Homo sapiens: one gene and its partners. The protein of the gene in region 3 purifies or fractionates together with the protein of the main gene of each other region. This does not show direct contact. Each region holds a gene or a part of one and is shown on either strand. Other genes may lie near its edges.

Region 1 (3,500 bases), on a different chromosome or scaffold from region 3:
TCATTAACCACTCTTGATTCATAGTTATCATCAGGCTTTGATGCAGAGAAATCGCTGTGGATCTCTCTCCTCCTAGCCAGCTAGGGGGCATTTCTTAGCTGCTTCTCCCCATCCTCACCTAGAGAAGGCATACGCAGACAATGCACATCAGAGACCTGTTGGAGCGGCTCTGTGGTGGGTTACAAGGGGGCGGCAGCAATACAGAAAACACGACCATGATCTTGGCTCTCATTAGACTATGCAACAGATGTGCCAGCGTCTCCTCTCTTCTTATTTGTGTCCAGTGCTACCCAATGTGAAACTGGCTCAGACCCTGGGCTATTGAGTAGGTTCATTTCCCTCCCTTGACACCTCCCTTCCTTTTCCTCCAACCCCCACTTCTCTGCCCCCACCACTTGCTAATCTACCTCTTGGCTTTGTGCGCACATCCGCCAGCCCATTCGCCCTCAAATTTGCGGCACTCCAAGAAATCAATATAACATGAATTTAACGACAGCTGGATGATTAAGTGTTATTTATATTTAAAAGCGGCATTTTAAAAAGACGTCTCACTAATAAATGGCTGTTTGGGAGATGCACATGATTAGGGTAATTGGCCTATAGGCTCTATCGAGCTATGCTTGGTCCACACAGGGCCCTGTGGACAGGACACTGTCTCTTTAAAAGCTGCAAGCTCCACTGCTCCCTCCCCAGACTCCCACCTGATCCCCTCTAGCTGCACAGACTTTTTCTTTCTTCTTTCATGTTGTCCTCACTGCCCAGGCTGTACCATTCAAGTTGCGGTAGGAAGGTGGAGCCCACAGGGAGACTGAAGGGGGCTCTGCTGCTGAGTGGTAAGAGATGGATTTTAAAACGAAAGGCAGGCAGGGGTCCTGATTCCCCTGGAACAAGAGCCCAGGCCTTGTTCCTGAAGGAGGAGGCTGCTTCCCTGCATGGCATGGAGCAGCCTGGAAGAAGAGTTTCCTGAGTCCCTATGTGAGTCTGTGTATGCCCCCACACACTTGTCCGGTCCTGTGGCATCAGCCTCCCAAAGGAAGAGGCTGTGAGGATGTTAGTACTGGCTTCAGTTCTTGTAAAAACAATGGAATGGAAGATGATAATTAATGATGATGGTGGCCAATATTTATTGAGCACTCATTTGGTTTAGATACCATTTAAGTAGTTTGCCTCATAACAACCCAGATAGGCTATTACGGTCCCTATTTCCTCCAGGAGGAAACTGAGATGCAGGAGGTTAAAGACTTTGTCCCAGATCACACAGCCACTTAGTGATGGAGCCAAGTCTCACTTGTGAGCAATCTGACCTTTCTCCTCATCACTGTGCTGGTTTCCTCCTTAGAATATATGTGCTCACTGTACTGCTGCCCCCTTGGGAGGTTTATGGGTGAGTGCTTGGGAGGAAGTTTAGAATATCTGGTCCCTAGTCTCTTGCACTACCTCTGTGATGCCAGGCAAATGTATTTATTCACTGAGCCTCGATTTCCCCATTCATCAAGGGGGATGAGTCTTCTCCTTGGCTGTTGGTAGGTTATAAAATTGCATGGATCATTCTAGCAGAATGCTCAGGTCCTGAGGGTGACTGTCACCTCATTTGGCAATTCCCATTTTCTCCCAGGAAAAAATGAGTAAATGAATGAATGAGTGAAGTTCCCATCTTTACTTTAGACTCTATGAGGCTCCAATTCTGATAGGAGTCTAATTCTCCCTGGTGACTGCTTCAAATTGCTAGTATTGTGGAAACAACACTTCCTCATTTCATCTTTAAAATAGCTGTGCAAGGTAGGTATTGTTTATTCCCATTTTGATAGCATAGAAGCTAAGGCTGAGAAGAGAGTTTAGGTGAGATGTCCAAGGCGCCAGGTTGCTAAGGGATGGATGGTTTTTTCACTCTTGGGCAAAGATTCTTACCATTACACCACTCACGGTAGGTACTTGACACTTGTTCATTCATTCATTTATTACTCCTAGAGTTTCTGACTTCAGGATCCAGAAGCAGGGAAGAAATCAGTGCCTAGGGACATCATGCGGTGCTGGGTGCCTGGATCCTATGGTGGTTGCAGCAGAGACTCATCGCATGTTGGTGCCAACGGACCATGTCAGGGGATAGCCATCCTGTAGCACTTAGAGGAATTTTGATAGGTCCCCATTTGCATGAAGAAAATAATTCAGACCTGAGATGGTGCAGGCTAAGGCAAGGCATTAGGAATTACATCCTGATGCAAAAAGGTGTGGGTGTGAATCCCTGAAGGAGCCCATGGGCCTGGTTGGGTTCTGTCCCACTCCAAAGCCAGGGCTAACCTCAGTCCCTCTGGTCTGAACATTTTAGGAAAAAGCCACAAGTGAGGCACTTTGGTTACTTGCCTTTTTTTTTTTCTTTTTCTCCAAAAGACAAACTTTTATTCCATGCATTATTTCTTTGACTTCTCTACACTGTGAGGTGAGTAAAAGTTCTGTCCAACTTGAGGTGGCTAGAAGGGGTGCACGTGGAATTTCATCACCTCCCCTCTGAGGCAGCAGTAGGAATGAGTGGATAAAACATTGGGAGGTAAAGTCCTGTGCAAACTGAAACCAACAGGTGTTGGAGAGATCTCAGGCATCCTCTCTTTTCCTTCTAAGCTTGGATCTTCCCCTCCCCCTCTATGGTGTTTCCTCCATGAACCAGGATTCGCAACAGCAAATTGGATTTTGGGATGTTTTGTCACTCCAACACAAAACAGATCACTAGCTAAGAGGATAGTCTCCGCAGTCAATGCGCTGAACACAGCCTCGCTGAATCAATTCCCGAGGTCTTACAGGGTAGAGTATTTTCATTATGAAGTATGAGGAGAGAAGCAGTGGAGGAAGAGGTCGCTGGAAATTTAGGACAGGAAAACCATGGCAGTTGAAAGGCTTTCCTGGTCTTCGCTCAAGATCAGTTCCTTATCTGACATACTCACTGAACTCTTCTCGAATGAGCACAGCTGGATTTCCCTTTTGGTAGTGTGGAGGCTCAAACTAGAAGGTGAACCAATCATTCCTTGGCTTTGACCCAGAGGCCAAGAGGAAAGAAGTAAGCAAGGCATAGCTGGTGGATTGCTTCCGTTCTTGTGGCGGGGTTAGAGAGTGAGAGAGGAGACAGTAGCAGACGTCAGGATGTGCAACTGAAGCAGCCTGCCTGGAATGTCAGCTAATGTTGCTAGAGTCAGTTGGAGTTCGTTTTCTTCCTCTCCATCTCAGGCCTGCTTTCCTGAAAGTAATACTTAAAATAGACTAGAGTTTCCCAAAGTATATTCTGCGGGGGAGTCAATAGGCATTACATGCAAAAAAGTTTCCGCAGTCAAGTAAGTTTGCAAAACCCTGGGTGTAAAGCAAAGCTAAAGATACTCCTTGCTGCAGGACTTCTCAGAGCCTTTAATACACTCACATGGATTGTGAAATCACAAAAGTATATAAACTGTGTAGTGGACCTGGAATCCACTGAGAAACACTGGACTAAGACAAGCACTTTGCTATGACTACTG
Region 2 (3,500 bases), on a different chromosome or scaffold from region 3:
AGATCCTTAGCGAGGTTCCCCACCACCGAGCCCTTGGCCAGCTCCTCCGGAATCGAGTAGCGGATCGGCTCACACAGCGTGGGGTAGAACAAAGGCAGCAGCAAAGGAAATAGTACCTGCCGCGGGCCGGCCCGGCGCCTCTGCGCGCAGCTCCCTCCCATCGTTCGCTCGGGTTCTCGCTGGGTCCCCGCTTTTCCAGTTGGAGAAAGTGCACTCTACCGCGCTAAAAGAGCATTCGGCCCAGGACAGGAGGAGTCCCGGGTCTCGGAGCTGGCAATCTGGTGTGCTGGGCAAGGTCTGCGCAGCCGGGAGCCTCTGTGTGGGAGCTGGTTTTCTTTTCTGTTGTTGGCTGCGCAGGGAATCCCAGGCTAGAGGCTGAGGGATCCCCGGCGTCAGCGCTTGCTCTGCACTGGCCGACGGCGGCGCCCAGAGGCTCTGTGTGGGACTGCAACTTGACTTTTCTCTACCTCTTTCAAGGAATTTTTTTTAAACTACGAGTTGACAGCCAAAATATTTTAATCTTTTTCCTCAGTGATTCCTTTTACATCAGGAAATATATTTCCACTTGGTCATAACTATCATATCTTTTTATTTACTGAATTTACATATATCTTGAATAAATGAATATTTTTTCTTCAAAATTTAAAAAGGCACAAAATAATATAGCATGAAGGTTTATAGGTCTCCTATCCCACGGCCCATTGCTATCCAATTCCTCCATCCAGAGGCAGTCATTCTTGTTCCTTTTAAGAGTAATTATCTATGAAGCTGGAAGTACTGAAGATAAGCAACAAATTTTTTTGTCTTCAATTCTAGCCTATATTCACCCAGAAAGTAATAATTCCTTATTTCATACTTAAGTACTGGAATGCAACCATTGCCCTAGTCATTACCATCATCCAGGGTGTCCTGTATTGCTTTTAAATAATTATAATCAAAATATTTTCTCACAATAGCTACAATGTCAAGAGCAGTTTTTTTTAAAAAAAAAACCTGTATTTTTCAAAATAATAGAATTATTTGAGATGAATGCACAATAATTTTGACTCTCATTAACACAAATATAAAATAATAGTTTCAATGGTTTAATAGTTAATAACTATGACCCTAAAGAGTGTGCTTTCCTTCCACAGACCTATCATTCAACAAATGTTGACTGACCTGAAAAAAATCATGGAATTATAAGGGTCTTGAGAAACTTCGGAATGCTTTTTGACTTTATACTACCACATTTAGTAGAATACTAGTAATAAAATTAAGAGATCTACCTAATACGTCACTATTTTCATTGAACTAAATGAACTCATCAGTACCTCCAATGATCCTTTGTTTATATAATTTCCCTTCGTTGCATATATTCTTTTCTTTTTTACAGCTGTGGTTGGTGTTTATATTCTGATCTGCAGAAATGGCATTTCTTTCTTGACTCTAAGTTTATTTTGCCTCTCAATTTCAGAGTTTTCAGAGTTTCAGGTGTTTGCCTCCTTATACATTAAAGAGCCACTGAAATAGCTTTGTCATATATCTCTTGCTCCTGTTCTCGGGAACATGTACAAATTTATCTGTCTTCCCAACCCATATTTACTTTCAGCCTTAGTCACTAGAAAATTTAACAAAAAAGACAAAAGCAGAATCCCAAATATTCTTAATTTCACCCTCTATAGCCTCCTCAGGATCCCTATTGAGCAATGAAAGTTAAATTAAAATGCTATATCTTCCACATAGCAGTGTGAAATTAGAGAATTGTATGCAAAAAGGATACTGCAGTGTTATCAGTTATAAATAGGGCTGGAAAAATCTAAGCATACATTGTTATAAATAAATTGTTAATTCAATATTAATGAAAAACTTAGTATATTCAACTGCAACTATCACCACAAAGTATAGATTGAAAAATATATAAAATGTAGTTTGAAAAAGGCCTATTGCCCTTCTCCTTGGGAAGAACTGCATTGAGTATTCTTGGATTTGGGTTGTGTTTCCAGAGGTGATTTCTTTCTGATACTTACCTATTCTTACCAGACCTGCCTTCAGAACAAGAGGGTTGCTTAAGGGGCTGGAGTTTCAATATGTGACCACCCAGGAGGAAATATAAATTGACAGGCACTTCTGTATGGAAGTCTGTCTTAGGAATTGTCAATATTGTACTCAACAACACTATAAACTACAAGGTTCTGCAAAGCTAATCATAACAAAGCCTTATGATATATAGGCCTTGATTGAGACTAGGTGAATTTTACCAGAAAGTAAAAAAAAAAAAAAAAAAAAAAAAAAAAAAAACCTTAATAAACATCAAATTCTACTCATCAGTGTTTTAGCATTTACACTTTCCACCATCATGCCGCAAACTTCAAAGTAAAAACCAATCTTTTTTTTTTTAACAAAAGTAAAAATGAAAATAAAACTCACTGGAACCAATGGGGTATCCTCTATAGGAAACTTCGAATCATCTAACAAAGACAAAGGATCGTTTTTCTCACAGCTCTCCTGGCTGATGAGCGTGTCCGCATAATTGGGCTGGGGGAAGATCAGGTGACTCTTTCGCGAGTCCGCGGTGAGAGAGACCTCGTGGGAATAGGTCTGCAGGAAAGCCCGAACCCCGTCCACGCCCACAAAGTGCGAGCCGGACACACCTGTCAAGCCGCCTCCTGAAGCCTGCAGCAGGCGTGACTTGTGCCAGCGCCGCAGCCTGTGCGCCAGCAGCACGATGACGAAGGCCAGGAAGACGCAGGAGACCGCGGCCACCGCTACCACCAGGTACAGAGTGAGGTCTGAGGTTTCAGAGTTAGCTGGAGACTCGAAGCTGCCGAGGTCCGCCAGGACTTGGGGGATGCTGTCGGCCACGGCCACGGTGAGCGTGACAGTGGCGGAGAGAGGGGGCTGGCCGTGGTCCTGGACGGCCACTACGAGGCTTTGCTTGAGCGCGTCTCTGTCCAGCAGGGCTCGCGCCGTGCGCACCTCGCCCGTGTGCTCCCCCACCGCGAAGAGTCCCGGCTCGCTGGCCTTGAGCAGACGGTAGGACAGCCAGGCGTTCTGGCCGGAGTCTCTGTCCACCGCCACCACCTTGGTCACCAGGTAGCCGGGCTCTGCGGAGCGGGGCGCCAGCTCCACGCCTGTGGAACCGTCTGTGGGGAGGGCGGGGTACAGGATCTCGGGCGCATTGTCGTTCTGGTCCAGCACAAACAGGCTCAACGACACGTTGCTGCTGAGTGGAGGATCCCCGCTGTCGCTGGCTGTCACCTGCATCTGTAGCTCATGAAACTGCTCATAGTCGAAGGATCTGAGTGCATACAGGACGCCAGTGTCTGAGTTGATGGATATGTATGAGGACAGAGGTACCCCCTGGATGGTGTCTTCAGCCAGGGAGTAAATAATCTGGGCATTCTCTTTGCTGTCCGGGTCCAGCGCTGTCACTGAGAAGATGGAGGCACCCCTGGCGTTGTTCTCTGGGATATAGGTAAAGTAGGAGACTTGAGAGAAGGTAGGTGGGTTGTCATTGA
Region 3 (4,033 bases):
TAAAGCAATCTATTCAGTATAACTTTAGCACACAGAAAATAAAATATTATGAATCCAAAGAAAGTGTAGCTTGCAATCATGTATTTTATTAAATGTATTTATCAGCATTTTGGCTTCTGATGGACATGTGTATATACATATTTTGTGGATAAAAAAATTACTTAACTATTTTTATATTAGATACTATCAATTATTCTGGCTGATCTGGGGACTTTTAATGGTAAATTTTATATCAAATCTGACAAAGACAGTATTTCAGACCCGTTTAAGACCTAGAACTCACCATGAGTTCTAAAATTGGTTCTCAGCACCATGGACAGCGTTACTGCAATAGGAAATTAAAGATCGATTTGGCCCCAAATTAAAATGGTGTTGTAAAAAAGTGGGAGAAAAAAAATGCCTATCCTTTTACTTCAAATTTTAAAAAAATGATCCTGGCCTTCACAACTGTTCATAAGAAGAATAATTAATTAAACAAACATATATTGAGAACATCATATGCTCAGTAAAACTTTGATTCTATAAATGGTGTCATTTACCAAATGGATTCTTTTGACAATTTAATTTTCTCTTATCTCTCTAAGAAGATGTAACTACACACTATAGTATACTACTACAATTATCAAATTTCATGTTGCATGTAACTTGTCGTCTGTATTTTTGTAGTTAGATTAGATTAACTAAAGATTTTTCAAGTTTGCCTTTAAGTCATTTAATTTTCCTGCCTTATCTTTAACCTTTCAACATTCCTCCAAACAATAGCAACACAAGTGTTATGTGTTAACTTCTCTAGTGACAAAAACTTATACTTCTCCACAAAGAGATGTGATGTTCATTATCAATAAGCTTGACATCTAAAATTGTTTTATAGGAGATACATATTACTTTTTCAGATGGTATATAAAGTTAAATAAATCTTAAGTTTTCAATGATGGGAAAAGCTTCCATTTAGTTTAAACATAATGTAAAGAAATTTGAATCCCCAAAATAGAATTATAATTCTAAAAATTCATACTATAATTCTTCTTAAATGTTTAAATTACAGTTAATTAAAGTAGTTGATTTCAAATAGAGTGGAATTATGGGCTGTACATCATTTAATTTTATGTGCTGACTGCTACATAGCCAAAGGAACGTGAATTAAGATGGTTCCACTTTTGACCAGGAGATGGAGCTGTCATGTAAGATGCTGCCTTTATTTATTTATTTTTCTAATTTAGCATGCTGTTTTCTAACAGACATTGGGTACCATCGAATGACTGTCAGAACAGAAAGCTAAGGCAAAGGAGGGAGGATGCTGTGGTCATCCTTTCTTGTTTTTTTCTTCTTTAATGAGGATAGAGCACATGTGAGATTTTACTTTCTACTCCAGTAAAAATTCTGAAGAATTGCATTGGAGACTGTTATATTCAACACATACGTGGATTCTGTGTTATGATTTACATTTTTCTTTATTTCAGGTAAGCCAGCATGATTCTATTTTTGACTTATCCACGGATTGTTATCTATGTTAAGAATGACATTTAATATAAGATGTGTGCTTTGTTAGCTTGTATTCAGATCTAAGAGATTCAAAAGCTCTAATTCTAGCTGTTGTGCAATTTAAAATCTTCCTAGGCTGAAATGAGCTCTGACTATGACATACCGTGTTTTATTATTTCTTTGGCTTTCTAGCTGTTGGTCTCTGTCTCTGGCTGTATTTGTTTACCTTTTAAAGGTAAAGCTTTCAAAGTGAAGGATGGGTTTTCCTTTCACAAGGGAAATACTGCTCCTTAATGCAGTGAACAAATTGTAGAGATATAATGAAGCAGATTAACATGGCAGTGGCTCTGCCAAAGCTCAGGGCTGAGCCTTCTGATTGCAGCCTCAGAGGCAAGCCAATATTCTGAGTCCAAAGGCCTTTTGAACGATTTCTGCTGGCTATGATGGTACAGATTGTTTATGTCTTTATTTTTACCTCTTAGAAATAATACGTAAGTCATTTCTCCCACATGAATCAAGATTTATGTAATGTGTTTAATAGACTTGGAATGAGACTATAGACCCTCCCTCCTCCCCCAGTATGGATGTGAGGAGTATGCTGAACACAAATTAATTGCCATGAAAATTGATTTTTTCTGTATTTTATTGGATTTGGGATAATAGAACCGTGGCCATTTTAAATAGTTGATATTATAGAAGGTGCTCACATTTTAAATTATTTTAGGTCATGTGACATTATCTGTGTTAAAGAGTGGAATGACTCAGGAGGTGGAAGTTGCATGCAACAGCCTTGCTTCTCTCTGCTGCTTCTCGTGATTTCCCTTAAATCCTTGCTTGATTATTATTAGAATAACAGGAATAAAGACATATAGAAATCCTATATTTAAAAACCACTGATTTTCATTTAGAGAAATTTAAAGAGATTTTACAAATATTTTAAAAATAGTTTTGTAAGATTGTTTTTAAATGCCTCACTTCTTTCTCCTGTGGAAAGAGCTGTGTGTGTGTGTGTGTGTGTGTGTGTGTGTGTGTGATGGTGGAGGTGGCAGGCGGTGGAGGTGCATCAGGATGTTTTTATCTCAGTCATTGTTTTCCTGTAAAGAGGTAGTTTTGCCATGTCAGAGGTTGTGAAAGCTATGGGGAATGATTTTATAAAATGGTTTGGACAAACCATGAAAAAAACATGTTTTTTAAATGTGTGGAATCTATAGAGTTTGTAGTTCTACATGGCTCCATATACATGGAGATTTTTAGAATTACAGATATTTAACCATTTATCCCCATTATCATTTAAAGAAAAGCAATTGTAATTGAGAGATAAGGTGGATTTCCCAGAGTCACGTACTAAATTACAATAAGGCAAGGCTAGAACAGTGATTGACAGTTCCACATCTTCCATAGCAGTAACACAATTCACCTCTAGTGTGAACATATCAGGATGGCATAGACCAGGTATGATGATATTCACTGTGCGTGTGTGTGTGTGTGTGTGTGTGCATGTGTGTGTGTGTTTGGTTATATTCTGTAAAATAGAGTTTCTTTCAGTATACTGTTGCTCAATGGCATATTATATGCAGTGCTCAATTTTCTTAGGTTTCTTGTCAAAGCATCCAAGAAAACTGAATGACAACTATGGAAACTCTGTTTCTTAGTATGCCTTTTTCATTATTAGGTGGTGTATACTCTTCTACCCTATGCTCATGAATGATGTGGATGGCCACATGGCTTTCCCTCCTACCTAATAGAAAAGATTGTACATATAGGTTAATCTATTGACAACTATAAGAATATCATCTCATGTCCAAGCCTTTCCTCCTTTGTTCACTTACTAGGCACAGGCTTTACCCTACTTCTTCAATATCTTGAGAAAAGAAAGGGATTAAAATGTGTCATGTCTACATATATTTGTGGAATACCACGTACCAACCAAGTGTCCATGGTAGAGATAAAGAAATAATTAGTCAAGGAGTTTACCTCAGGGAGGTTAACATGCAAATATACATGTGCAGATACCACTATATCTCAAAATAAGGAATGAAGAAAGATGAGAAAGTGAATGGGACAGGAATATCAGCACCTATCTTGTGCCAGGCACCATGTTACATCCTGGGATTCAGAACAAAACAATAATGTTAATTTCTGTCCATGGGGGGCTCAGAGGAAAAGATTTTAGGAGGATGTGACAGTTAAATTAGATCTTTAAGAGTGAGTTGGATATAAATAAAGAAAAACAGAAAGTTGCTTATTCCAGGTACATAGGTGAGGCAAGTAAATACAAGAAAATGGAGAACTATAGGCATCGTATAGGGAAACTGTAGAGAAAGGTAAATAACCCAATCTGTTTGAAGCTTTTGTTGTCGGTGTTGTTGTTGCAGTTGTTATTTTTTTTCCCCTGGGGCAGTAAAAGTAAGGATAATGAATTTGGCTTTTGGTGTTATGCATTTGACATACTGACACATACTCATACACTGGGGTGTTTTATAAGGAGCTGAACATGTTATATCCATGTATCAGATTAGTGGTTAAGGCTGAATGTATAGATCTGCATGCA
Region 4 (2,202 bases), on a different chromosome or scaffold from region 3:
TAAAACAATGATGACAGCAGTACTTAATATGTATTTCGAGGTGAACTTATATAGATTGAGAGAGGCTGCATTTGGCAGACTGATGTATAGGAAGACCCATTTGTTTCTAGCTTCTCCCTGCAGGGAAAATGCTTTCGTCATTATAGCCTCTTTACACAGACTGGCCATTCTAGTGAAACAGGTGGTAAACCTTTGGGCTGCCCAGAAACATTTTATCTGTTTTCACTTACCTAGGAAGGGGAAAGATTAGCGGGTCATCCAAAATCTGTATGTAAGCTATCTTCATTTTCTTCCCCAACCTTCTCCTCCTGGGAAACACAAATGCTATCTCATCTGACAAAAGGTTTTAGAGGATAAAGCTGAAAAGATTGGATTGGGATCTTTTTGTGGCTTGGGGCGGAGCCTTTTGCTAAAATCTCAAGAATGCTGCTTTGAGTTTAGCTAGGGTGGCTCTCAGAACTGGGGTGCCTGGCATTCTCAGCATTTCTCAGGGGCCTCCCACCTCTGACAACTGCAGTGTTAGCTAATACATACCTTGAGCATAGAACTGAATGCTGTAATTCAGAGCCATTTTTTTTTTCAACTTGAACATTGTACAATTTTACTGCAATTTCCTTTGAACTTTCTTGCCACTGTTTGGAATCTTAAAAATTCATTAGCCTTCTCCTTTCTGACATAAAGCTACTCTTCATCAGAGATGAGTTCCTATGTATGTCCTTTGTTCCTTCAATAGCTAATTAATGTGCTTGAGGATACTTCAGTGGAAAAAAAGGTTTAAATATGCAAATTACTAATAAATGTGTAACCTTATGTAACTTGTGTTACATCAAGTAACAAGCTAATCTAGTTTGTTTCACTGGACTAGGCTTGTGCTCCCTACTTCAGTATTTTGATGCTTTCCTTGATCTTTGTTTCACAAAATGTTGTGAATTTTGGTATCATTCAAAACAAATGACATTTATTAGGTTTCATTTTGAAACGATGTACAGACAAGTCCCCAACTTAGAAACCGGTTTGTTCTTAAGGTTCTTGCGTCAGCCCATAGAAGCCCACTGACCTCCACCACAGCCCAAATGGAGGGCTGTGATAGCCAGATCTGGTTGGCTTTTGTGGGCTGACCCAGACATTTAATCACCATCTCTTATGTTGTTGCCGTAAGAAATGCATTCCAGGTTGGGACTTGGGATCCTGAGAGCACATTCGCCCCCTGTGGTGGCCGCTTGCCACCTTGCAAGATGGAAGCCCAGTCTCCTTACTACCAAACTGTAGTTGTAAGCAGAGGGAGGGGTGAGATGTTTATAGGACATTCCCTAAGCTGGGGAGTGATTTTTATCACTATTCATGTCAACTGTACTTTGGTATAGACTCCCTATCAATTTAATAATATGAAAAGCCTAAAATAAAACTATGCATGCTATTCTATGTGCTATTTTATATCAGTAAATAAGCTTATGCTTGCCAGTTGTATACACAGTTATGAGGTGTATAGAACTGACTTTGACAGTATTTTTTGCACTGTTTCCTATCTGTTTTTATAAAGTCTTATTTAGATATTGGACCTTGTTGATGTTCTCACTGCCCTTGTGCTTGCTATAAAATGTTTCATATGTGCCTTTACAAATGTGAGATCTTTATTCTAACCTTTTTTTGTAAAAGATATCTATTGATTTCCATATGCAATAAACCTTTTTTTCAGAGAAAAGTTACATCTTCTCTTTTCTGTACTGTATATGTTTGCATTAGTTGAAAGTGCCTGGGAAAACCTGCATGCTTTGTTTTCTAAAGCCCATTTATTGCTACCCAGTTTTTAGTCCTGCATAACCTTATCATACTGAAGATTTAGTTTGAAATTCCCAAGGTTGTCACTGTTAGAAGAAACCTGAAAGGGGTGATCACTAGGCAAGTGGAGTGAAGAATACATAGAAATGGGTCTTTCTCACAAATGCAGCAATAAGCCTCGTTAAGCTCCAAGCCCCTACTCACTCCTCCTTCACTGTCATTTACTCAGGTACCAAACTGTTGATGTGGAAAAGGCAGGCACCAACCAGGCTGCTGTAGAAAATTTAAATTCTTGCTTTTGCCTTTCAGCTTTATAACAGCTCAACTTGTGTCCAGGTTTAAAGGTGGCTGTCCTGTCCCAGACTTTCAGCCAGTAACCACCATAGCACATTCACGGTGAACCCCTCATATGTGGGTAGATGC
Region 5 (3,500 bases), on a different chromosome or scaffold from region 3:
AATGGGACTGGGAGTGAAATTATGGCCTGAGGTCTGATCAGCCACAGAGAGGCTAAGGTTTGGGGTTCTGGGTGTGGTGCAGTAGTGTGCCTTTGATTAAATGGCTTCCCTCTGTGTGCCCCCGTTGTCCCCTCAGTAAGTGGGGATAAAATGCCCTGATTCACCCTCAGAGGGATGGAAATGTGTAGCCACAGAGTGGGTTCTTGCGGCCTGCAGAGGAGGCAGCTGAGAGCGAGGAGGATGACAACCTGTCGTCCATGCTGCACCAGCGTGCTGAGATCCCATGGCGAGCCTGCGCCAAGTACCTGTCCTCCGCCGGCATCCTGCTCCTGTCGTTGCTGGTCTTCTCACAGCTGCTCAAGCACATGGTCCTGGTGGCCATCGACTACTGGCTGGCCAAGTGGACCGACAGCGCCCTGACCCTGACCCCTGCAGCCAGGAACTGCTCCCTCAGCCAGGTGTGACTGGCGGCCCATGGCAGAGGTTGGGAGTGGGGATGGGGGAAGGGCTGAGCCCATGGGCACCCTGGAACTCCAAATCACTCTCTGCCTGTGAAGGAGTGCACCCTCGACCAGACTGTCTATGCCATGGTGTTCACGGTGCTCTGCAGCCTGGGCATTGTGCTGTGCCTCGTCACGTCTGTCACTGTGGAGTGGACAGGGCTGAAGGTGGCCAAGAGACTGCACCGCAGCCTGCTAAACCGGATCATCCTAGCCCCCATGAGGTACCCGTCTCCCCTGGCCAGGCTGGGACTGTGAGCAAGTCACTGTTCTCTGAGCCTTAGTCTTCCCATCTATAAAATGGGGATATACAACCTGTCACAAGCTTGTGGGGGTGACTCAAGGAGACAGTGTGTGTAAAAGTGCCCTCCTTGTGCAAGAAGCAGGGAGAAACTGGCATTTACTCAGCCAGATACTGTGATAGGCATTGTGTGTGGTTAGCTCATTTAATTGTTACCATGGCCCTTTAAAGTGAGCGTCTGCACATCCAAGTAAAGATTGTTTTCTCCTCCCTAAGTGGGTGTAATTTGCCCATCCCCACCCATGAGTTCAGCTCCCTGCCCTCCCCTCACTCTCTCTCCCTCAGCCAGCCTCAGGTTTTGACACTGGGGGAACAGGTAGCTGTTCTATTAATAATTTCCTGTAATGGGATGGATAAAAATCTCAAAGGCCACTTGATGTCAAAGAGGTTTAAAGTTGTCCCTGCCCAATTGGTTGGCCAACTTGGCTTAAAAACACAACAGGCAAACAGATTTTCTGGCCCCTTGTCGAGGCTAGACCTCACAATCTAACTGCACTTTTTACTTTCCAGCCTCATGAGTTTTCTGTGGCCCACAGATATGGCCTCCAAGTTTATTTACTTTTACTCTCTATTTGCCCCAGCTCTGTAGTTCTGAAACTCCCTGGTTGGGGTTGGGCTGACTCTGGGTCAGCCAGCCGGCAGGCTGTCCCCAGGGCCCTGTTCCTCTTGGCAGGTTGTCCCTCTGGAGAGGACTCTGTGTCCCAGGAGGACAGCTGCTGAGTCAGGCCGAGCCGGCAGCTGAGAAAGGCGGCAGTCGTCAGATGGGCTTGAGAAACTGAAAGGCTAACGAAAGGCCAGCGCCCCTTTGGGCAGCTGCAGGAATTCACGGGGATACAGGCCAGATGTCTACAAATTGGCAGAGGATGCCAGACCCATGAATGACTCCAGAGACACTTACATGAAATAATTAACTATCTCATTCAGTAAACAGGAAGTAAATCAATGGACAAATGAGTAACTCTTCCTCTGGCTGCCTCTTAGGTTTTTTGAGACCACGCCCCTTGGGAGCATCCTGAACAGATTTTCATCTGACTGTAACACCATCGACCAGGTACAGAGGACCGTGCCACACTATCCCCCCTTCCAGAGACACCTCGGACCCCTGGGGGCTTCTCCTGTCTGAGGCTGGGTTCCCCAGATCAGGTGATCACAGCCCTCTGGGAAGAAGCCAGTGTCCCCGATCCGATTATAATGCTGCTTCAGGGCTGGGGCCTCCCTCGTGGGAGCCTCACAGTAAGGCTGAGGGAAACCAGATCCCTTTAGCTTCCACCTGAGATCCCACTGGCTTTCTCTAGTAAAGTTCCAGCATATTCTGAACCAAGGTGGCTGATTGTATGGAGAATATTCATTTTGATTCAGCCTGTGTTCTTTATTTACCATTGTACCAGATGGTGTGAAAACAAAATCTTGATTCCTACCTCAGGGAGTTTACCTTGTAGCTGGAGAGATGAGATACGTGCCTATAATAAAGGGAGAGCAAGGCCGGGCTCAGTGGCTCACTCCTGTAACCCCAGCACTTTGGGAGGCGGAGGCAGGCGGATCACTTGAGGCCAGGTGTTCAAGACCAGCCTGATGGCCAACATGATGAAACCCCTTCTCTATTAAAAATACAAAAATTAGCCAGGTGTGGTGGCAGGTGCCTGTAATCCCAACTACTTGGGAAGCTGAGGCAGGAGAATCATTTGAACCCAAGGGGCAGAGGCTGCCGTGAACCGAGATTACGCTGCTGCACTCAAGTCTGGGCAACAGTGAGACTCAGTCTCAAAAAAATAAAGGATCAAAAAATAAAGTGAGAGCAAAACATGGCGGCCAGTAGCACTCTAAACACAGTCAATACCAAAATTCACCTCACTCTCTCCCCCTCGTCTCCCTCAGCACATCCCATCCACGCTGGAGTGCCTGAGCCGCTCCACCCTGCTCTGTGTCTCAGCCCTGGCCGTCATCTCCTATGTCACACCTGTGTTCCTCGTGGCCCTCTTGCCCCTGGCCATCGTGTGCTACTTCATCCAGAAGTACTTCCGGGTGGCGTCCAGGTGATGGCCTCAGGGGTGAGGGGTGGGAGGTGCTTTGCAATGTGCAGTTTGGTGTACTTGCTAGACTCATCGTTATGAGAGTAATAGGGTCGTGTTCCCTCCAAAAAATAAAAACAAAAAACAGAAATGAAGGAAATAGAAATATCCACATCTTATTCCACCGCCCTAATATAATAGTCTGCCAACACACGCACACACTGAGGTTGACATCTGAATTATTTCCTTGGGCGATATGGTCAGGACTGGAATTGCTAGGTCATGATAAATGCACATTTTATGCCCTTCATTCATTTTGCCAACATGCTTCCCAGGAGGGTTGCATCATTCTAGTGGTCAGGCTGATTGCTGATGCATGAAATCGGCGGGCACCTGATTCAAGCAGTGTTATGATAACACCTCCCAGCCCACGTGAGTCCAGAGTGTAGCTGTAAGCCTTGACTTGAGGGAGCCTCTCACAGCCATTCTCATGGATCACATTTGCCCTCATGAGCTTTGGATCCATGCACGCCTCTTTCCTCCTCAAAATTTTCTAAGAATGTTCTCTAGGGAGTTCTTTCTGGGAGTGATTCTCCCAGATTCATAGAAACTCATAGATTCAAAAAATTGTAGGAAAAAATTTAAAGAACGTCTAGGCCAGTGTTTCTCAAACTGCCAATTACAGCCCAT
Region 6 (3,500 bases), on a different chromosome or scaffold from region 3:
TTTTATTCCTTGAACTGATAAAATTATTAATGATAATAACCCATCAATATCCTGAAAATTATTATGTTTTTTAATTTAAAAATAAGTTGTGGTGTTCATAGATTCAGTCTTCATAGGCAGAATAATAAAGCATAAAATAACAGACCAACATGGAGAAGCCATATAAAGAAAATCTCTTCAATCCATTTGTAAGTAGTTTGTGCAAAGAATAAACACAAACAAGCCGAGACTATTCCTGTTTCCAGTAATCTGTTTGAGTATAAATTTTGACATGTAAAATAGAACACCGGTAAATCTTTGTAAGAGCTTTTTTAAAATTTAGAATTAGTGACTATATATTTTAAAGCTCTGCAATTGATTAATCAAAATTAACTGAGACTGGTTTCAACCAAATAGACTAATATGACCATGTTAATATTTTGCAGAATATTAGCAGAAGAAGCAAATATATTTGGTGCCTTAGGCTGCTGACTTTCCCTAGGGCCTTGTGTTTCTTTGGTTTCTCAGGACCCAGGAATGATTTTTTTCAGTGTATCCTTTGTTTTGTAATAAAATAACAAGGTTTCTAAATTACAGGATTTTAGAGCTAAAAGGGAATTTAAAGATTATCTACCTTGTTTTTCCAGGCAAGGAAACTAAGGTCCAGAGGGGTTAAGCCACTTGTTTAGGAATATGTGTATATGTCTCTTGAGCATGTGTAAGCATTGAGAGTCCGGTCACACTGTGTGATCCTGATGAAACCATTTCTTCTTTTAGCTAAGAAACATCTGAGTTTCTTTAATGTTAGAGAATTGGACTTGATTTCTAAGCTCACAACCCCCGTATTATTTAAGGACTCATCCAGCTCTAAAATTCTGTGTTTTTAAATGGTTTTATTATGTTTGGTATATGAAGAGGACAGAACTTAACAGGAGTATTAATAGCATCCTTTAAAATTAATAATATCCTTTCAAAAATTTTTGATATTTTGATCTGTGAATAAGATGTTAACCCAGTGAAACTCTCTTATTTAACTTAAAAAGGGATGACGATGAATTAATTTTTTATTGCAGGATTTTGGAAAGGAGAGGTTCTGCATGAACTACACTTCCATTATATTCAGGTATAAGGAGACATTACCATAACATTATTAACGATTTTCATTTATAGAACTCTCCCATGGGAACACTTGTGTTACAGGCTTCAGTTTCCCAAAGGTATTATGTTGATTAGGTAGGTTTAACTTGAGTTGCTGCAACTTGTTTGAAATATCCAGTTTGGCCACCCGATGGGGCACAAACCACACTTTTTCTTTCAGACACTTTTGTAAATCAAAGTATAGTATAGTGTGTTTAAGATAACACTTGTAAATGATTGCGTCAATGAGATGGTTGGCATTTACAAATGTTTCTTAAGTGAGTGAATGAATGTTGTAAAGACAGGAAGCTATAACTATTCTTTATCATCTTTAAGTGTGTCAGCGTGAGTATGCTGGAAAGATTATACTTGTCCGTTTATCCTGAAGGTTGGTTTTGGATCAGCTTTTGGGTGAAGGCCCAGATCATAAGAACCTAAGAATCTTATTTGACCTGGGGTGACCATGGAAACTTAGTCCTAGCTTCAAATTCAGTCCTAATCTGGGAAGCATTTAAGAGAATGATTGAGTTGTGCTGGGTAAGGATTTCAGGTATATTTGAGTTGTAGGCCCCAAAGGAGTGTGCCCAAAACTCCCATGGAGTAAAGAGAAGACAGTATTAGAAAAGTAAGGGGGCTGGACACGGTGGCTCACGCCTGTAATCCCAGCACTTTGGGAGGCCGAGGCAGGCGGATCACTTGAGGTCAAGAGATTGAGACCATTCTGGCCAACATGGTGAAACCCCATCTCTACTAAAAATACAAAAATTAGCTGAGTGTGGTGGTGCATGCCTGTAGTCCCACCTACGCGGGAGACTGAGGCAGGAGAATCGATTGAACCGGGGAGGCGGAGGTTGCAGTGAGCTGAGATTGTGCCACTGCACTCCAGCCTGGCAACAGAGTAAGACTTCATCTCAAAAAAAAAAAAAAAAAAAAAGGAAAAGTAAGGGAAGACAGAACTGTTAATTTTACTTATTTTTATGCATAAGAAAAGGAAGAAATACAATTTTACTAGTATTTAATAAATGGATTGATGCAGTACCCCTGCTAAGGAGGTCATGCACAGGTATACTGAAGAAAACAGAAGGATTGCCAGTGGCTTTTTCACTTGTTTGTTCGCTTTGGCAGATAATCATTAATCCAGTTATGGGTGCATAATTAAATGAATCTATAAATTATTATCTAGTTTTAGCCAAATCAACCGCTAGGAAATAGACATGTCTTAAAAAGACTCCTGTAAAGATTCCATAACAGTAATACCAATAATGCAAGCACAAGTGAACAACAAGAAAATGACAACAGAGCTGAGGTTTCTCCTTCTAGTACTAGCTTTTTGGCAGCCAAATTACAGATAAAAACAATAACACTTTAGTAGACTTGACAAGAAGTTCGCCAAAAATTTAAAAATTATTAAGCTAATTCTTTTTTCTTTTTCCTGAGACGGAGTCTTGCTCTGTCACCCAGGCTGGAGTGCAGTGGCCTGATCTCAGCTCACTACAACCTCCGTCTCCCAGGTTCAAGCCATTCTTGTGCCTCAGCTTCCCAAGTAGCTGGCATTACAGGCGCGCGCAACTACATCCAGCTAATTTTTGTATTTTTAGTAGAGACAGGGCTTCACCATGTTGGCCAGGCTGGTCTCGAACTACTGTTCTCACGTGATCCGCCTGCCTCAGCCTCCCAAAGTGCTGGGATTACAGGCATGAGCCACCACTCCTGGCCTAAGCTAACTCTTTGAAGTAAGGTTTTACATCTACTGTCAGTCACAATGAACTTGACTGTAAGTGTATATATTATGAGTATTCTGCCTTTGTAAGGTCTGTTTTTTCAGTTTATAGCCATTAATTAAGTTTCAAAATCAAATGAATCCTGAACTTTGAACTGGACCTTTGAAACACTGTATCATAAAATGTTAAATGAAGGTTTTATTTATTTAAAAAACTTTTTTGTTTTTTTAATGAAGATTAAAAAAATGAAACTTTTCAGTTATGTTCTCTCAAAGCATTGTTATTGATAATTTCTTAGATCAAAAATATTTTTGTACTGTTCATAAATGAAAGGTAGAAATTATTTCATCCTTGTGTCATCTTTTTAAAACTTCTATTTTAAACAATTTTGTTTTACATTGTACACAGATACAGATGGGTATAATTAATAAATAAATATGCATATATTGGAGATACATAATAAAACTTTTTTTAAATAGGGATTTGACATAATAAAAGTTTGGAAGACTTTGCCCAACTTGTACAGATTAACCACAGCTGGTTTGTGGGTTGCCTGGTATTGAGGTGGCCTTTGGGAATGAGAGAGTGTCAGACTTCACCAGGGTTCTTGCCCAGTGTATTTGCCTTTTCAGGTCTTTCCTTATCTAGTAAATGCTAAAAGAA
Region 7 (3,500 bases), on a different chromosome or scaffold from region 3:
AGCATATGAAGGTCATGTCAGGGTAAGTATGATTAAGTTGGGTTTAGATTAATCCTTTAAGATTTATTAATGAATTAAAATCAAATCCAGTTAGTTTAAGAGGATAGTTCTTGATGGAAAATTAAATGAATAAAATTCATCTAATAATTTTATTTCATCTAGAATAATGATTTGCAAACAAAAACCTAGCTTTTACATGGAAATAAGTTATAAAATGTCTCAAGTTTTTCCATATTGTTCCTATCTTGTGATGAAATCTTCATAAAGGAGTTTGTGGCCCCTGCTCTTGCAAGAGAGGTGGCATATGGTTATGAATTATGAGCTATTAAGGCATAGTCTTGTTATCTTGGGTAGTATTTACAATGTAAGCTGAACTTCATCTTACACCAAGTTTGACTTTTATGCTATTTAGAAAGAAACCCATGAGTGTTATTTTAATGAAATATGAGTGAAAGTTAAAATGGTACCATTAAAATGTTTCTCAGAATAAAAAGTCATTCTGTATTTGAAGAATGTGTTCTCACATTTTCTCATAGCTTAATGATATGTGTCTCATCTGCTACTTTACCAACCAGAATGGCAGACTTATAAAACGTGTACATTATCTGTAGGTCTTCACCATGCAATTACATATGTAATTTAAGGGATATTTTCATTTGAGTTGTTTTGGCTGTTTGTCTGTCTAAAACAAAACTAAGATTCCTAAGCCAGCTGGAGTGAAGAAAGGGTGGCAGAGAGCACTGGCTATAGTGTGTGACTTCAAACTCTTTCTGTACGATATTGCTGAAGGAAAAGCATCTCAGCCCAGTGTTGTCATTAGTCAAGTGATTGACATGAGGTAAGAGTTTGAAGGTAAAATTATTTGTATCATTGCAACATAGGAATTTTAAAGTTTCTGATTTTCAAAAATTGTGTTGCCATGGTTTATTTAAATGAACTAATTTCGTATTTTCTAATTTGCTAATATTGCTATAGAAACAGAATTGAAAATAGGAAGTAAGGTGTATTTATAGGACAGGTTGGTATGTGTGTTGAGTGTGAGGGGCTAGGAGTTAAGGAAAAAGAAGTTGGTGTCCCAAAGACCTGTGTAAATGGGGTAATGGAGGCCTACCATGTGAAGTTTATATTATCACATCACCTAAAGGCTTAGAGTATAATTTCAATGTGAGGAAAGAAAATAAAAATCAGAAAGGCTTCTGGAAAACATAATCAGTAAACATTTAAGTAAGTACAGCCCTTGAACACTTCTGGTCTCATTTTTCAGATTCTTCCTGTGTTCCTTAGTTCTCTCTCCTTTACCTTTTCTCCTAACTCCAGGCACTATCCTTGAGTGATCATATTTACTCACAGCTTCAGCCATCTCCTCTGCATTGATGACTCCCAGACTTGTATCTCCAGTTCAGATATATCCATCCATTGCTCAAAACCGGAATTTCTAGCTGTGACTCAAATTGGCACTTCACATTGGCATCTCAAACGCATTATCTTCCCCTACAAATATGGAACATGACAGGATAGATGCAAGAAATATTGGCAAGAAAAATCTGATAGAACCTACTAAGGGACTGAATATAGATAGGGAAAAGAATCACAAATAGGACTAAGGTGTCAAGCCTGTAAGACTAAGGGAGTCATGGTACCAACAACAAAATTAAGGGAATCACAAGAAATTATTGTGGAGGAAATACGTTGTAGATGTTGAAGGAACAATAAAATATAACATGAGCTGGGTTGAGGGTACTTAAGATTTATTATGGGAGGCAAGAGGGTCCACTGGAGGCTCCAGAGACCTACCAGGGTTCAAATCCCAGTTCTACGTGTATACTTAACTGGCCTTGTGACTGTGGGTAAGCCAGCAATGATTTCTAGCTCTTGTATAATGTGCCACTAGGAAGTTATTCTTGATAAATTATTTGGGGCACTATTAATTACAATGGGGGAAAATTAATTTTTTTAAAAAATTAAATTTGGGTGTTTGGTGCAGTTAAGCTTTGGGTATGTGTTATTTGGATACACACCCCAAACCACACACACATAGCCACATATAGTAACTTTTAATGCTTTGCTTTTCGTTCAGGGATGAAGAATTTTCTGTGAGTTCAGTCTTGGCTTCTGATGTTATCCATGCAAGTCGGAAAGATATACCCTGTATATTTAGGGTAAGTGTGTATGCTGTAATTTGATCACTGAATTATGTGTTTTTAATGAGTATATTTTGCCTCCCTATATAAATCATAAATTCACTATAAGTAAAACCAAATCTTATATTCTTTTATATATTCCATATCATCCAGTACTTGAAGGTATAGAAAATTGGTGCTAAGTATTTAATTAGTGAAAGACCTGGAGAAAGCATCAATATATGGCTTATAAAATATGCTTCCTGGTAGATAATATTTTTTAGTTCCAATTCAATTTTTAAATAAATACTACCACATGGAAAATTAGATAAGTGTGAGGTTTCTCAAGTTTTTAAAAAAATAAAAATGTCTGTCTTGAAAAATTAATGCGTTTGTTACTTACTGCTTTGTAACAGCCATTCCAAAACTTAGTAGCTTAAACCAACAGTGATTTACTATTTTTCACTATTCTGTGGACCAGCTGTACAGTTCTTGTGGTGTCCGCTAGTGTCACTGATGTGACTGCATTCAGCTCATTTGGGACCAGAACATCTAATGACCTTGCTCTTACATCTGGGTGCTGGCTGTTAGCTGGGTGATCTCAGTTCTCCTCTTTGTGAACTCCCTCCATGTGGTCTCTGGTCGTCAGGTAGGCTGGCTGAGCTCCCAGTGGCTGGCTTCTAAGAGAGCAAAATAAGCTGCCAGGCCCTTTGAGGACTAGGCCCAAAACAGGTATAATAACCCTTCTGCATTCTGTTGGTCAAAGCAAGTCATGAGGTCAGCCCAGATTTAAGGGGAGGGGAAATAGACTCCACCTCTTGATGAGAAGAATGGAATTCCTTAGGAGGACTTGTTGGTAGGCGTCTTTGGAGGCCCTTGCCACGATGCAATCTTGAGTGGGTAAATTAAGACAATAGAGGTTAAAAAAAAAAACTACTGCCCAATTGTTATGCCTATCTCCCTATATTTGTCTATGAATCTTGTATCTAAGGAAGGTCAGGCAAAGATTATACTTAGTCTCTTAGTTCCCAGACTGACAACTATTTATTTTCCTCCCAGCCACCAAGGGAGCCTACAGAGGCCCACTTATCTATAACTGATTTTCATAGTGTGAGTTTATTGTCACTGCTACTTAATAAGGAATTCTTTACTTATGATAAGGAATTCATATAGGTAAAATTTAAAACTGCTCTGATAGTGTTGTTTGTATAATGATAAACCTTCATTTAAATATTAATTTAAATGGTCAAATCTTAATGATAATGCGAGTTATTGTTGTGAAGTAACAGAGAATATATTTCTGAGCACTTCTGACCTTAAAACAAGTCACAAGTCAGTATGGTGTGGCGCTTAAGAGCATGGGCACAAGATCCCAGACTT

The links.
Region 1: the proteins of SCN2A (region 3) and PLXNA4 purify together in Homo sapiens (affinity purification with mass spectrometry; one large-scale study listed by BioGRID and IntAct). This does not show direct contact.
Region 2: the proteins of SCN2A (region 3) and PCDHGB6 purify together in Homo sapiens (affinity purification with mass spectrometry; one large-scale study listed by BioGRID and IntAct). This does not show direct contact.
Region 4: the proteins of SCN2A (region 3) and PTPN14 purify together in Homo sapiens (affinity purification with mass spectrometry; one large-scale study listed by BioGRID and IntAct). This does not show direct contact.
Region 5: the proteins of SCN2A (region 3) and ABCC8 purify together in Homo sapiens (affinity purification with mass spectrometry; one large-scale study listed by BioGRID and IntAct). This does not show direct contact.
Region 6: the proteins of SCN2A (region 3) and XPR1 purify together in Homo sapiens (affinity purification with mass spectrometry; one large-scale study listed by BioGRID and IntAct). This does not show direct contact.
Region 7: the proteins of SCN2A (region 3) and CDC42BPA purify together in Homo sapiens (affinity purification with mass spectrometry, with the first as the bait; one large-scale study listed by BioGRID). This does not show direct contact.

Annotation. Positions count from the first base shown.
Region 1 is NC_000007.14:132,569,971-132,573,470, reverse strand, and holds part of PLXNA4 (plexin-A4 isoform 1 precursor), read left to right. Parts: intron 1-3,500. UniProt on the Homo sapiens protein: Coreceptor for SEMA3A. Necessary for signaling by class 3 semaphorins and subsequent remodeling of the cytoskeleton. Plays a role in axon guidance in the developing nervous system. Class 3 semaphorins bind to a complex composed of a neuropilin and a plexin.
Region 2 is NC_000005.10:141,414,521-141,418,020, reverse strand, and holds part of PCDHGB6 (protocadherin gamma-B6 isoform 1 precursor), read right to left. Parts: coding exon of another isoform or gene 2,293-3,500; exon of another isoform or gene 570-2,292; intron 345-569; exon of another isoform or gene 162-344; coding exon of another isoform or gene 1-161. Other genes in the region: PCDHGB7 (protocadherin gamma-B7 isoform 1 precursor), read right to left, coding at 1-161; PCDHGA10 (protocadherin gamma-A10 isoform 1 precursor), read right to left, coding at 2,410-3,500. UniProt on the Homo sapiens protein: Potential calcium-dependent cell-adhesion protein. May be involved in the establishment and maintenance of specific neuronal connections in the brain.
Region 3 is NC_000002.12:165,238,181-165,242,213, forward strand, and holds the start of SCN2A (sodium channel protein type 2 subunit alpha), read left to right. Parts: upstream 1-1,233; 5' UTR 1,234-1,460; intron 1,461-2,879; exon of another isoform or gene 2,880-2,934; intron 2,935-4,033. UniProt on the Homo sapiens protein: Mediates the voltage-dependent sodium ion permeability of excitable membranes.
Region 4 is NC_000001.11:214,348,200-214,350,401, reverse strand, and holds the end of PTPN14 (tyrosine-protein phosphatase non-receptor type 14), read left to right. Parts: 3' UTR 1-1,702; downstream 1,703-2,202. UniProt on the Homo sapiens protein: Protein tyrosine phosphatase which may play a role in the regulation of lymphangiogenesis, cell-cell adhesion, cell-matrix adhesion, cell migration, cell growth and also regulates TGF-beta gene expression, thereby modulating epithelial-mesenchymal transition.
Region 5 is NC_000011.10:17,403,846-17,407,345, reverse strand, and holds part of ABCC8 (ATP-binding cassette sub-family C member 8), read left to right. Parts: intron 1-136; exon of another isoform or gene 137-216; coding exon 217-458; intron 459-557; coding exon 558-724; intron 725-1,782; coding exon 1,783-1,852; intron 1,853-2,676; coding exon 2,677-2,834; intron 2,835-3,500. UniProt on the Homo sapiens protein: Regulator subunit of pancreatic ATP-sensitive potassium channel (KATP), playing a major role in the regulation of insulin release.
Region 6 is NC_000001.11:180,635,022-180,638,521, forward strand, and holds part of XPR1 (solute carrier family 53 member 1), read left to right. Parts: intron 1-3,500. UniProt on the Homo sapiens protein: Inorganic ion transporter that mediates phosphate ion export across plasma membrane.
Region 7 is NC_000001.11:227,031,993-227,035,492, reverse strand, and holds part of CDC42BPA (serine/threonine-protein kinase MRCK alpha), read left to right. Parts: coding exon 1-22; intron 23-698; coding exon 699-838; intron 839-2,077; coding exon 2,078-2,159; intron 2,160-3,500. UniProt on the Homo sapiens protein: Serine/threonine-protein kinase which is an important downstream effector of CDC42 and plays a role in the regulation of cytoskeleton reorganization and cell migration. Regulates actin cytoskeletal reorganization via phosphorylation of PPP1R12C and MYL9/MLC2.